4 linked regions of the Homo sapiens genome follow. The protein of the gene in region 4 purifies or fractionates together with the protein of the main gene of each other region. This does not show direct contact. Each region holds a gene or a part of one and is shown on either strand. Other genes may lie near its edges.

What was found.
Region 1: the proteins of PIGN (region 4) and SURF4 purify together in Homo sapiens (affinity purification with mass spectrometry; one large-scale study listed by BioGRID and IntAct). This does not show direct contact.
Region 2: the proteins of PIGN (region 4) and LMBRD2 purify together in Homo sapiens (affinity purification with mass spectrometry; one large-scale study listed by BioGRID and IntAct). This does not show direct contact.
Region 3: the proteins of PIGN (region 4) and PTDSS2 purify together in Homo sapiens (affinity purification with mass spectrometry; one large-scale study listed by BioGRID and IntAct). This does not show direct contact.

What each region holds. Positions count from the first base shown.
Region 1 is NC_000009.12:133,369,561-133,373,060, forward strand, and holds part of SURF4 (surfeit locus protein 4), read right to left. Parts: exon of another isoform or gene 1,362-3,500; coding exon of another isoform or gene 1,316-1,361; intron 1-1,315. UniProt on the Homo sapiens protein: Endoplasmic reticulum cargo receptor that mediates the export of lipoproteins by recruiting cargos into COPII vesicles to facilitate their secretion.
Region 2 is NC_000005.10:36,141,888-36,145,387, forward strand, and holds part of LMBRD2 (G-protein coupled receptor-associated protein LMBRD2), read right to left. Parts: intron 1,520-3,500; 5' UTR 1,463-1,519; coding exon 1,289-1,462; intron 713-1,288; coding exon 615-712; intron 1-614. UniProt on the Homo sapiens protein: Recruited to ligand-activated beta-2 adrenergic receptor/ADRB2, it negatively regulates the adrenergic receptor signaling pathway. May also regulate other G-protein coupled receptors including type-1 angiotensin II receptor/AGTR1.
Region 3 is NC_000011.10:488,279-491,899, forward strand, and holds the end of PTDSS2 (phosphatidylserine synthase 2), read left to right. Parts: coding exon 1-34; intron 35-250; coding exon 251-369; intron 370-1,121; coding exon 1,122-1,236; intron 1,237-1,309; coding exon 1,310-1,455; intron 1,456-1,604; coding exon 1,605-1,790; intron 1,791-2,141; coding exon 2,142-2,304; 3' UTR 2,305-3,121; downstream 3,122-3,621. UniProt on the Homo sapiens protein: Catalyzes a base-exchange reaction in which the polar head group of phosphatidylethanolamine (PE) or phosphatidylcholine (PC) is replaced by L-serine. Catalyzes the conversion of phosphatatidylethanolamine and does not act on phosphatidylcholine.
Region 4 is NC_000018.10:62,040,664-62,044,056, reverse strand, and holds the end of PIGN (GPI ethanolamine phosphate transferase 1), read left to right. Parts: 3' UTR 1-2,893; downstream 2,894-3,393.

The DNA of each region.
Region 1 (3,500 bases), on a different chromosome or scaffold from region 4:
CCAATGCAGAGAACCAGCACAAGATGCCCATGTGCACAGTGTGACGCAACCTGCATCACACTGGGTGGTGGGAAAGGTGACGCCACACACCCTCCCCAGGTTCTGCCTCATGGCCCCGTTGCTCTCTAAATGCCCAGCAACAGTGTAATCACCCATATTCCATGGAAGAGAGAAAGCACACCACCGTGGCACACGATGTGCCACTGCTCTCAAGGAATGGCCTCACATCGTGGCCCAGCTGGGAAGCCCCAGCAAGGACACAAGCCTTTATCTCATCTGAACCTGGGGAAAAGCAACCACTGGGAAGGAAGAGCTCAACAGGAGGCTGTCCAGACCTCTGAGATGAGACGGAGCCGTGGTGGGACTCCCAGGGCAGGGTGTGGGTGTGGGGCGTGGACCCCAACAGCAGCAGAGAGGTAGACTGCAATCCATACCCAAGACAGACACCAGAGGTGTTCTGACTTGCTTCTAAAATGAGAGCTGTGAGCCACTCACTGGCCTGAGATGAGCAAACCAGCCCAGCCATGGGCTGCGGTCTAAGCCTCCCCCAGTTGCAGGACCTGCATTTAACATGCTCATCTACGTGCACAGCCCACGAGATTGAGGCAGTGTTTAAAAGTCTCTTTGAATGAGTCTGCGACTCTTAATTTGAGTGTCTGGGTCAAGAGGATTAAAGAGCAAAAAAGAGAGAGAAGGTGGGACAGGCAATTCACACCTCCTTCCCTGCGCAAACATGGTGACGAAACAGACACAGCTCTTGGCTTTGGGGAAAAATATGCAAAAATCTAGGTACTGCCTTCTGAACTGAGCACACCTACTGCTTGGCTGTCCTGGTTTTCAAAGGCAAGCCTGGTCCACACTGAAGGCTGAAGTCAGGCTGATGCAGTCTCCTCTAAACTGGCCACCATTTAATGAGCATCTGTTTGGACTGAACACTGAAAAAGCCACGTTTAAAGACAAGGCCCAACATTAACCTTATTTCCTACATGCATGTTGGTCACAACTACTTCAACTTGGCCACTGGAACCATGTCATGCCACTCTAGAACACGTCCCAGAGCCAGTGTCCCCTCAGCACAGCAGAGAAGAGCCCTCAACACAGGCAGGACACACAGCACCCCAGGACAGACAAGAGCAGCCGCACTGCAGGCACTAAGGCCATTGCTGGTAGCCAGCACACAGGTGACCTGTGTAAACACGGCGAGCACATAAAACTTGTGACAGTCCCCCTCCCCCCCATTAGAGAACTGCGACAGCAGAGCCAGAGGTGGCTGTTGACCTGGCAGGCTGCAGGAAGAAGATGACAGTTAGCTCACCTCTGTGGCCAAGCTTCTCATTAAGTCTCTCCGAGAACCGCGCCATCAAGCAGGATATGGTTCATAAGCAGTGACAGCATCTGAGGGGCTTAACAGGAAGACTGATATTTCTCTCAAAGGGGTGGTTATTTTAGACGACTGAAGGGGATTTTAGAAACGTAATTAATTATATCCACCCTGAGATGACTTCCTGGGCATCCAGTGATCACTGTCACAGCCACCTGCAGCTCCCACGCCACACAGAAAACTCCACTTTCTCTTCACACTCAGGACAGAAAGAAATTGAGGAAAGCAGCTTGCAAATTCGTGGTGAATGTGAACATCGACGAAAAAGGCAGGTCAGATTTCCTTGATCACCAAGGACTGGGGCTGCCTTGTTCAAAGCCCAACTCAGGTCCCACACATCCTAGAAACAAGCACCTGCGGCCCAGCGGCTTCCCTCACATCAGCCTGTCAGAGCTGGCTCGAGCTCACTGGCTCACTGCAGCTCCAGAACTTCCCCGAGCCCCGCTCCCATGCTGCTCTATAGGTTCACACTGCACCCTGCAGGGCCAGAAAGGATGTCGCCAGCCCAATGTGGGAGATGATGGCCTGGCTTTACTAAAAAACTGTGTGATCAAAATCCCAACTATAGGAAAGACGTAACTGAGAACGACTGGGCCCCATGTTCTGGGAGGAGCCCCGCTAACCACAACCTCCTCTGCTCCTCGCCCGCACTCCCCTGAAGAGTGAGTTTTAACCTCCCGTTAAGATCATCACACAAAGAAAAGTGAGTCAGCTCCTCTTTGCCTTCTCTCCCCACTCCTTCATGATATAGGGCAGGGTATGACAGAGCCTGCCACTGTCACCAGGACTTTGCCACACCAGTCACCAGCATGGTGTTCATCGGGACCCTCACAGTGCCTGTGCCACCTGCAAGTTCAGGGGTCCTCAGGCCTATCCTTGCTTCCCCAGCACTTCAACTAGGGCCGAGGCCAGCTCCTAGGGCCCAGGACTAGCTCTGCCACTCTTGAGGACAGGTTAAAAACACCAAAGGTCACACTGGAGAGGAAGGCCCCATGCAGCTTTTCTGTCACCTTGGTGATGAGCCACCAGGCAGAACCCATTAAGTGCTAATATTGCTGTTTATGGGTATAAACTGCTTAGAAGCTACATTTTACAGAGTGTCTAATAGGCAATGAGGAGCAGCTGCAGGCATGGACATTAGTTTGGATTGCTGAGTTCATTAGTTTCTGGACCCTTCCCATGGCTTCCAAATGCCAAGCTCCTGCATAGAGCACGTCTCAGCAGTTTCTACAGAGCATGGCTCCTGGGAGCAAGAGGACACTGTCCCTGGCTGCCAGAGCAAGCAGCTTGATGCCAGAGGCAGAGAGACAAGAGATGCAACTGTGGGGAGCCTGCCAGCAGAAACTAACCAGACTGCTCGTCCCCGTGGACCAGCCTCTGCAGGCCAGAAGGAAAGATCAGTCAACCAAGCAGTGAGGAACCCAGCCTTTGGGGTAACAGGATGCGGACTCAGTCTCCAGGCCACCACAAGCCAGTGCGGCCAGCCAACCTCCCTCTGCCCATCTGAAGATGGTGACGCTCTGGCCAACCTCCTACAGTCAAGAAGTTCACAAAAGGAATGTCTATCATGGACCCGGCCCAGTGAAAGACTTAATGTCATTGTCATAATACTGGAAGACACTGGGCCTGGGAAACTAAGCTTACTTAGGTCTTGCTTTCAGCAGCCCACACTTTCTGGTCAAATCTTGTCACTTCAGTTTTGCTCTTGTTTTCTGAAGATGTGAAAAAATGGATGTGTCACTTTATCTGATCAGTGACTTCCATGGTAATCCTCTATCGGCTTCAAATTAGGTCATTTTCATGTAAAAGCCTGGTCTGGCAGCTTTAAGTACTATGTGAATAAAGAGAAACAAAGCCCCACCTGGGCTTGGTCAGATTCTGTCCACAAGAAGCCATATTTTGACTTCGAACCCTGTTTACTTGCCTGCATCTGTCTGATTGGGGTTTGGGCGAGTACAAGTAGCTGCCCTCCCAAGCTGCCCACAAAAGGGCATGGAAGCTCCCACAGCCATGCTCTGCCACCACCTAGACGGACTCTTAAGGAGATCATCTGACGGCGGCAGCCTGCGCTGCCTTACAGATATGGTGCCTTACAGATATGGTCCTAACCCACTTGGGT
Region 2 (3,500 bases), on a different chromosome or scaffold from region 4:
TAAATTTACCTTTTCTGAAGTTAGATTTTTTAAAAATATGCATAAAGAAGCATGCAAATACTACTGAAAGCATTCATAAAGGCTATAGTCAACATATATAAGCTTTTTACTTAAAAGTTCGATATGAATTCAATATAATCTTTGGACAATTTGAACTTTATTAATTTTTTATGTAAATCTATAATGCTTTTGAAGGATGTGCAATATGAAAGGAATACCATAAGTTCAGAAATACTTGTCTTTATTATAACCTTGTAAATTAGGCAAAAGTGAAAATACATCCCACGTTTTTAAATCTGAGATAGGCTGAGAGGAAAAACAGGTTTTAGAAATTACATACTTGGTAAAGAAGAACCAGGACTAAAAAATCAGGACTTCTTCAAGTTTCTCACTACCGTCTACTGAAGGGCTTTGTGGACCAATAAATATTAAAAATTAGATTTAATTAGAATATGATGTAATGAAAAGTCTACTAGGAAAGAATAGAGGTGGGGAGAATTAGTAGAGAATGAGGATAACTTACATAAATATAAAGTCTGGATGGTAAAAACTTTCAATTTTTAAACAATGTGTCCCCTACAATGTTTATATATTTTTTTTAAAAAAGGAAATACCTTGGAACAGGGTTAGCAGTTGCGTACAATCCTGTAATGTTGCTATTCTCAGGAGGGCTTGAATTTGCAGCAGCATGCTTGCACCGGTTGTATATTGTCTAAAGCAACGAATGTATGGTTTAAAAATGAGAATCAAAAGGTTACCAAGTACTTAAAGGACATCAGAGTTTATAAATCTATCTATCTAAACTTACCTTCTTGGCTATGCTTTATTCTTTTTTTTTTTTTTTTCTTTTTGTGTGAGACAGAGTCTCACTCTGTCGCCCAGGCTGGAGTGCAGTGGCGCGATCTCGGCTTACTGCAAGCTCCGCCTCCCGGATTCACGCCATTCTCCTGCCTCAGCCTCCCGAGTAGCTGGGACTACAGGCGTCCGCCACCACGTCCGGCTATTTTTTTTGTATTTTTAGTAGAGACGGTGTTTCACCGTGTTAGCCAGGATAGTCTCGATCTCCTGACCTTGTGATCCGCCAGTCTGGGCCTCCCAAAGTGCTAAAATTACAGGCGTGAGCCACCACGCCCGGCCCTTGGCTATGCTTTTTAATGATCAAATGGCCATATAATCTTTTAATTCAAAACTGACATAACTTAGCTGTCTTAAGAAATAACATTATTTCCAACATGCTGTATGATTAAAATTTGTCTTTTAAATTGTGAAAATAAATTTCACTCCTTACCGTACTAACATCCAGAGGCAGTATGAAGACAATAAGAAAGCAGAGATACCAAGCAAGCAGTGTTCCAATAATCACAAGTCTATGCTGTTTCTTAAAGTCTCCATATCGATGAAGCAGAAATAATGCCAGAAAAAAGACAAAAACAATCTCAAGTCCCAAAGCTGCACCACTCATTATTGAATATTTCACTCTGACTAACCAAAGTTATTCATGTACAGGTCTGGACCATATCTATAAAGTAAAAAGAAGGTTAAAATGCATCATTAACACAGGAAATGACATTTGGAAATTTCATCTGAATATTTATTAGTACATTAATACATTAATCAACTCTTTGGAGAAATGTCATGCTTCACATTGGACTATGAATAAGATTAAAAGGGTAATTCCTATCCTCAAGTACTTATATTTTATTTTTAAAGCACACTTAAAAAATTTCACGTACCTTGTATTTTCAAAAACTTAACAAAAATTATTAGTTCTTACAATATTACAAATTAAGAAGTTCTTATTTTAGATGTGAACAGTTTTAATACAGTGTCATCTGGAGTTTGTTTCTTAATATTATAAGTCCTAACAGAATAGTTTATGCAAATAAGCTGTTAACTAAATCCTAGGAAATTAGATACTTAGTAAAATACATTTTACTAAGATTATTCATCCTCTATAATTTAAGATTTTCTAAAAGAGAGGAAGGAAAAAACGGAAAGAGACCATTTAAAAGTAACCTTTTGTTTTTTGAAATAGTATTTTTCTTTTGTGTTAATTTCACCTAACAACTCAACTTTCATGAAATTCTTACTCACTGCTTTACAAAATATATTTATCACTTCCATTTATCTACATAAATCTTTAAACTTACTTTGATAAATTCTCATTTTTAATTTTTCTACTATTTTATATGCAGAAAATTTATCAATGACTATTAAAGTCATACATTTGAAAACATTCTTAATTTTATGATACAGTCATCAGCGAATAGTTTACTTGATATCTCTCTACTCAAAAAAGTTAGAGTATAGAGATTTAAAGTCTCTATTTTAAAATTGAAAAATTTGATATCTCTCTATACTTAAAAAAATTTACTAATCAAAGGCAATATGAACTTTTTCTCCTTTGTAAAATCAATGTTAGACTTTTGTTTATCTACATACTACAGTATTTCAAGGAATTGATTAATATCCTAACACAGAGAATCAAGAGTGTGATCAACCCAACAAAATAAAATAAGGGGCAGTGGCTCACACCTGTAATCCTAGCACTTCGGGAGGCTAAGGCAGGCGGATCACCTGAGGTCAGGAGTTCATGACCAGCCTGGGCCAACATGGTGAAACACCATCTCTACTAAAAATACAAAAATTAGCCAGGTGTGGTAGCGGGTGCCTGTAATCACAGCTACTCAGTAGGCTGAGGCAGGAGAATCGCTTGAACCTGGAAGGCAGAGGTTGCAGTAAGCCGATATCGTGCCATTACACTGAAGCCTGGGCAACAAGAGCAAAATTCTGTCTCAAAATAAATAAATAAATAACAAAATAAGGGAGAACCAATGAAATACTTCAAATCAACAAACATCTTTAACTAAAACTATTTAGAATAATAGAAAAGACAATTTAAGTACTTTAAATGGTTAAATTTAAATTTATATACAAAATACTCCTACATGAACTATCACATAGAAAAATCACATTTAATGAACAATTTTCTTCACTATTTTTTATATTGGTAAACAGTTTCCATTTCAACTGTCAATATTTTCATTTTTCTTAATTATCTAAAATTGAACTTCTTTCATCAATCTCTACCCTCTTATCCTGCTATATTTTCCTTCAATGCATTTATTCATCTGATATAATACACATTCTTTATATTTATTGTCTCTCCACACCTCTCCCCTTACCCCAGAGACTCTATGAGAGCAGAGACTTGACTATTTTATTCCATACTATATTCCAGTTGTCTGATGTAGTTAGTACCTGGCATACAGTAGTATCAAGAAATATTTGTTGAAATAATAAAAAATACTGTGTAGTTTAGTACATACACTATTTTTCTATTACTGACGACTTCAAAGGCAATGTAAAACTCGTGTAATGGTAAACTGATTTAACAAATACTTATTACAACTCAAAAGGCTTAAAACTCTGAACATTACCAAATACTACTCAAATTTTCAAATTTCATATTCTATGAAACAACTTATACCACAACAAAG
Region 3 (3,621 bases), on a different chromosome or scaffold from region 4:
GCTGCCCAACTTCAGCGAGTGCTGGTGGGATCACGTAGGTGCCAGCACAGCCCCCGGGGCAGTCGGTGCAGGCTGAGGGGCATTCTCGGAACCCCTGTGCCCAGCGCGGCCCCTGGACCCCCTCATTCTCCCCGGGGGGCAGTGGGTGCAGGCTGAGGGGCATTCTCGGTTCCCCTGTGCTCTTCCGGGGTCCTCCTCGGGGGGCTCGTTACCCCTCACCCCTGCAACGAGTGCTGGCCCCTCCCTGCAGTGGATCATGGACGTGCTCGTCTGCAACGGGCTGGGCATCTACTGCGGCATGAAGACCCTTGAGTGGCTGTCCCTGAAGACGTACAAGTGGCAGGGCCTCTGGAACATTCCGACCTACAAGTACGTCGTGGGGGCTGCGAGGGCAGGGCCGGGTGGGGGTTACCTGGAGGCAGCCTCAGCGTCCGTGCTCCAGCAGACCCCGAGCACCAGGCCCGTCCAGTGTGCGGCTCAGGAGGGGTGACCGTGGGGCTTTGCCTCCTGGAACCTCCCTCTGACCTGGTGTCACTCAAGCCCGGCCGCCCCTCACAGTGGCCATGGCGTCTGACCCACGTACCTCCCTCCTCAATCCCTGGCCGGCCTGGCGCAGGGGCTGTGGGATCATTCCGTGCTTCTCCCTCCCTTGGTTGCTTTGGTTATGAAATAGTTGCAGGTACTTTGTCATTATGACTTTGGAATTTAAAAAAGAAACAGAAGTCTAAGGAAAGGCCTGGGGGACGGGGGTCTCCCCTCCTGCCTGTGGGTGCCCCGGCTCTGCCTGGCTCTGCAGACATGGCTAGCTCACGGCACCGTGGAGCGCCCTCTGAGGCGCTGCAGCCACTGCTCAAGCTGGAAGAGACTGAACAGCAGAGGGCCGTGGAGAAGCAGGGCTTGTAGCTGGGTGGCCAGACCTCGGAGAACAGCCGGGCAGCAGCTGGGTAACCAGGAACAGAGTCTGTGGCCCGATGGCACAGGGCGGGGCGGGGTGACCAAGAGCAGAGCTCGTCCGATGGCACAGGGCGGGGCCGGGTGACCAGGAACAGTCTGTTGCCCGATGGCACAGGGCAGGGTTCGGTGGGCTGCCTTCCTCAGGCTGCCGGCTCTGTGGTTCCCAGGGGCAAGATGAAGAGGATCGCCTTCCAGTTCACGCCGTACAGCTGGGTTCGCTTCGAGTGGAAGCCGGCCTCCAGCCTGCGTCGCTGGCTGGCCGTGTGCGGCATCATCCTGGTGGTAAGGCCGGGCTGCCTCGCGACGGCGCGGCGGGCGGGGGGCCAGAGCTGGTGCTCACCCTCTCCTCCCCTAGTTCCTGTTGGCAGAACTGAACACGTTCTACCTGAAGTTTGTGCTGTGGATGCCCCCGGAGCACTACCTGGTCCTCCTGCGGCTCGTCTTCTTCGTGAACGTGGGTGGCGTGGCCATGCGTGAGATCTACGACTTCATGGATGACCCGTGAGGGCTGCGGCAGTCCGGGTGGAGACACCCCCGGGGGGCAGGGGCCGGAGGGCTGGGGAGCAGAGCCTGGGAGGCCGGAGCCTGGGCAAGTCCGCCTGGAGGACCCTGCGGGGCCCGGGACGCTGAACCCCCTGCTGCCCCTGCAGGAAGCCCCACAAGAAGCTGGGCCCGCAGGCCTGGCTGGTGGCGGCCATCACGGCCACGGAGCTGCTCATCGTGGTGAAGTACGACCCCCACACGCTCACCCTGTCCCTGCCCTTCTACATCTCCCAGTGCTGGACCCTCGGCTCCGTCCTGGCGCTCACCTGGACCGTCTGGCGCTTCTTCCTGCGGTGAGTCAGGGCAGGGCGCGTATGTTCTGAAGGAGGGCCGCTGTCCGGGTCCCTTGGCACAGGCACTGTGGGAGTTTGGTGTCGTTGGTGTCTCACTGTCCCTGCTTCAACCCTCTGGCCGCCTCTGCGGGAGGCGCCTTTCCTGACCCAGCCCTCGGGGCCTTCGCTCTGCACTGACAGATCCAGGCTCCTCAGGGCTCCAGTCTGCCACGGCTGCCGTCCCAGGGCCAGGGTACCCGGCACCCACCCAGTCCATTCCGGACCTCCACAGGGACTAGGTGCCAGCTGTCCATGGGGCCTGCAGTGGGGCTGGTGTGGGGGCAGGTGGTGACGCTGCATCCCGCTCCCCAGGGACATCACATTGAGGTACAAGGAGACCCGGTGGCAGAAGTGGCAGAACAAGGATGACCAGGGCAGCACCGTCGGCAACGGGGACCAGCACCCACTGGGGCTGGACGAAGACCTGCTGGGGCCTGGGGTGGCCGAGGGCGAGGGAGCACCAACTCCAAACTGACCTGGGCCGTGGCTGCCTCGTGAGCCTCCCAGAGCCCAGGCCTCCGTGGCCTCCTCCTGTGTGAGTCCCACCAGGAGCCACGTGCCCGGCCTTGCCCTCAAGGTTTTTTGCTTTTCTCCTGTGCACCTGGCGAGGCTGAAGGCGAGGGGTGGAGGAGGCCCCAGCACAGCCTCATCTCCATGTGTACACGTGTGTACGTGTGTATGCGTGTGTGTACGCGTGTGTACGCGCGTGTGTACACATGCGTGGCCGCCTGTGGTGTGCACGTGTGCTCTGGGCTCCGAGGCTTCTCCAGAGCTGGGAGCTGGCTGGCGTGGCAAGGGCATGCTCTGGGGCAGTGTGTCCCTCAGGAACCAGGGTCCTCCCTCCCCTTTCTGCCTGGTCAGCCCCGTGGCCTCTGGCCCACCAAGCTCCCTGTCACCCAGCCATGGTGTGGTCCAGGCAGGGACATCTCGGTACCCTTTCTGCACTCCGTGGGCCCTGGGTGCGCTGAGGCCTGGAGGCGTCTACACTGGCTCCACATCCACTTCCCCCGCAGCTCGTGTGGGCGCTCGTCCACAAACACTCCGTGGCTGAGAGGCAGCGGATCCAGGCAGCGATGCTGAGCCACCTCCTCCGAGCCTTCCTTTCACACAGACCACCCCGGAGGACACGTGGATGATGGGGTCAGAGATCACTGAGCTGCCCCTCAAGGGGGCCTGGAACCCGGGTGCTGGGGTCATGCTGCCTCCGTGGCTCCAAGGTGAGGGTCATCTTCACGAGCAAAGAGAACCAATAAAGTGACAACGAACGTCTGAGGCTTCCAGCCCTCCCCCCAGCTCCCCGTGTCCTGCTTTGGGGTCCAGTGCAGCCCTCCAGCCTGCCCTCATGCCCAGTGCCCACTTGGGGAAAACCACACAGAGGACAGGAGGCACTCAGCCTCTGCACCTGAGCAAAGACTTGGCGCCTGCCCCGCCCCACCCCCCAGAGAGAGCAGGTGCCAGATGCAGCCCCTCTCCCATTCTCCAGGAGGGTCCAGGTGGCACCCACCCTCTGCTGCGCTTGTCCAAGGGCTGGCGGCCACTGGGCAGTGGACACAGGATTCCTGGGGTACTGTGTTTGTCCCAGGCTGGCAGACACTGGGCAGTGGACACAGGATTCCTGGGGTGCTGTGTTTGTCCCAGGCTGGCAGACACTGGGCAGTGGACACAGGATTCCTGGGGTGCTGTGTTTGTCCCAGGCTGGCAGACACTGGGCAGTGGACACAGGATTCCTGGGGTGCTGTGTTTGTCCCAGGCTGGCAGACACTGGGCAGTGGACACAGGATTCCTGGGGTGC
Region 4 (3,393 bases):
CTTGCTGCACCGTAACTGGCCCCTTCAGACTCACATGGGAACAAGCCTTTTCTGTTGCAGTTTCCCAGATATCTTTAAATGTTTTGAAATGTATATTTTTATGTTGCAAAACAGAAAAAAGAAACGAGTTAGGGAAAAAGTATTTCTATTTAAGGTATTTATTTTTTCATTCTACCTATGCCATAGATTTCTGAATCAAGACTTAGGACATTTGCTGATTAACAATGTTTAAATTAGGAATTGTTATAAGAATTAAAATAGGCAGAACAAGTTGTGAAAATATTGAACCAAAAAAAGGCCATGCTATCATCTTAGAGGGCCCATGAATAAACCTTAGAGGGAATCCTAAGGCTTTAGGAAACCGCTGCAGCTTGTCTGTCATTTTCCAATATGTTAATTATTATACTTAGTGTACAGTATTTAGAATACAAAATGCTTTTTTATTTTTTAGGAAAATAATGTTATAAATGATTGTATATTTTCATAGTAATGTCTTTATAATTATTTATTAATGATAGAGCTGAATTAGAAAAGCTCTTCATCCATTATAATATGGTTTCTCATGAAAAACTTATTACAAATTTCAGCCAACTCAGATATTAAGAACATCAGTGTCAATCCTCCTCCCCTCCTGCGACCTTTTTACACTTGTTTTGGTGGACTAGGGGCTCCTTTTCTCCTCCTTTTTGACATATAACTGTGCCATTAAAAACATGATTTCTGATGAAGCTGGCCTAGAGGGAATGAAGGAGATTGCGTGGGTATGGTCTCTAGGACAGGCGTAGCTGTTGCAGGGCCACCCTGTCCTTGGGAGAACCTGGTGAGCTCCCATATTCACACTAGATGCCATCATGTCAGGGGGCTGAAGAGAATGGAGCTAATCAACTCTGTCATTTGGAGAAGACCCCCTTCAGACCAGTTCTGAGAACTCCTTCTTTTAAGAGACCAGAGATAACTTGATCATTTCTCACCTTTTCGTAGTTGTTCTTTTTTATGTTGACATTCCCCTTACTGTTTTTAAAATGCTTCAAAGCATTAATGATTGTTATGCTGTGTGCTTTCAGTACTATGGCAATATCTTTGTAGCATTTTCCCATTTCTGTATAAGCATGGTTTTTTGTTTTTTTTTTTTTCGTTTTTGTTTTGAGACAGGGTCTCACTCTTGTTCAGGCTAGAATGCAGTGGCACCATCTCAGCTCACTGCAACCTCTGCCTCCTGGGCTCAAGTGATCCTGCCACCTCAGCCTCCTGAGTAGCTGAGACTACAGGCACATGCCCCCACACCTAGCTAATTTTAAAATATTTTTTGATGGAGACAGGGTTTCACTATGTTTTCCAGGCAGCAGCATTTTTTTTTGACTGGGATTTCTTTATGATGCTTTGTTATTTAAAAAAAAAATGAGAAGGAAACATTAATAATCAAAATTATCTTTAATTGGCCTCACAGGGCTAAAATCTAGAATTATTATTACTCTTGGGTAAACTCATGAAAAGTACTTAATATTCATTCTATAAAGAAACAAAAAGAACCTTTGAGATGTGTCTCTTATTCATTTCCTTGGGTACACTTAAAACGGGTTACAGTTACTGCTCAACTTTCTACCTTCAGAACTGCAGCATTTATTTGCCACACAGCAGCATTTATCAGAGATTGTCCCTTAGAACATTGGTTCCTTGTAATACAAATAAATGTCATAATAAAAATAGTTTCTTTTTTCTTTCTTTCTTTTTTTTTCAAGACAGACTCTGGCTCTCTCGCCAAGGCTGGAATGCAGTGGCGCAATGTCAGCTCACTGCAAGCTCCGCCTCCCTGGTTCAAGCGATTCTTCTGCCTCAGCCTCCTGAGTAGCTGGGATTACAGGTGCCCACCACCACGTCTGGCTAATTTTCATATTTTTAGTACTGACAAGGTTTCACCATGTTTGTCAGGCTCATCTTGAACTCCTGACCTCAAGCAGTTCACCCGCCTCGGCCTCCCAAAGTGCTGGGATTACAGGCGTGAGCTGCCTCACCCAGCTGAAAAGAGTTTCTTAATTAAATATATTTGAGAAACATCTAGTCAAACCACCTTAAATAGGTATATTTACATTAGTTCTAAGGGAATTTAACTTGTGATGTACGTTGTGAAGGGAGGAAGATAGCATTATGCCAAAAGTTTCCACTAGCTTGACAGCAGACCCTGTCTTAGAGTTTTCTTCCTGATTGGTAAACATAAGAAATGTTTCCAAAGCCGGGCTTGGTGGCTCACCCCTGTAATTCCAGCACTTTGGGAGGCCGAGGTGGGTGGATCACTTGAGGTCAGGAGTTCGAGACCAGTCTGGCCAAGATGGCAAAACCCCATCTCTACTAAACACACACACACACACACACACACACACACACACACACACACACACACACACACACACACACACACCCGGCGGGGTGGTAGGCTCCTGTAATCCTTGCTACTCAGGAGCCTGAGGCATGAGAATTGCTTGAACCTGGGAGGTGGAATTTGCAATGAGCCGAGATGGTGCCACTCTGGGCGACAAAGTGAGACTCTGCCTCAAAAAGAAATGTCTCCATATAATTTTGCACTAAAACCTTAATTTGTCATAGTTTTGAAAATAGGGTGTTGTATGTTGATTGAATTTTTTTCCCTGAGAACTGGAATACCATTTTTACTTTAACCCTTAATGTGAGAAAACTTTACAATTTCCTGCAATTTTTCCTGCCTCTGTATATATTACACCTGTCATCATTTAGTCTTTCATGTGGGAAAGGCCAGTGGTACCAGATTGCATTCGGTTCATCATGGCTCATTGTCTAGCCCTGCTAGAGTATAGACTAAGCCTTCATACCTTATGTTTTATATCTTTTACCTGAAAAATAAATTTGCACCAAATTTCAACTTGTTTTCTTATGATTTGACAGTGTAGAAAGTGATTAGTAGTTAAATTTTTATAATGCTTTGTTATTTAAAAAAACTATGAAAAGAAAACATCAGTTATCAAAATTTCCTTTAATTGGCCTCAAAGGGCTAAAATCTAAAATTATTATTACTCTTGGGTAAACTCATGAAAAGATAAATTCTTTTTACAGAAGAATTTAATTAGCTTGACTGGTATCAAATACCAATTGCATCAAACATCAGTGATTCCATGAATTTTTTAAAGTTGTTTTTACTTTAAGCAGATAATGTTCAGTGAATTTGACTAATGTGATTAACGAAGGGACCAACACAGGTAATTGTCAATCTTACAGACATAAACTGTTACCTCGAATATCCCTGTATTACTTGAAATTCTAGAAATCGTCTGTCAACATTTTAAAAGCTCCTCTCCTTGCTGATGAGAAGTAATATTCTTAAAGTTAGAAACCATACAATTAAATCCTGATTTGCCTGATACA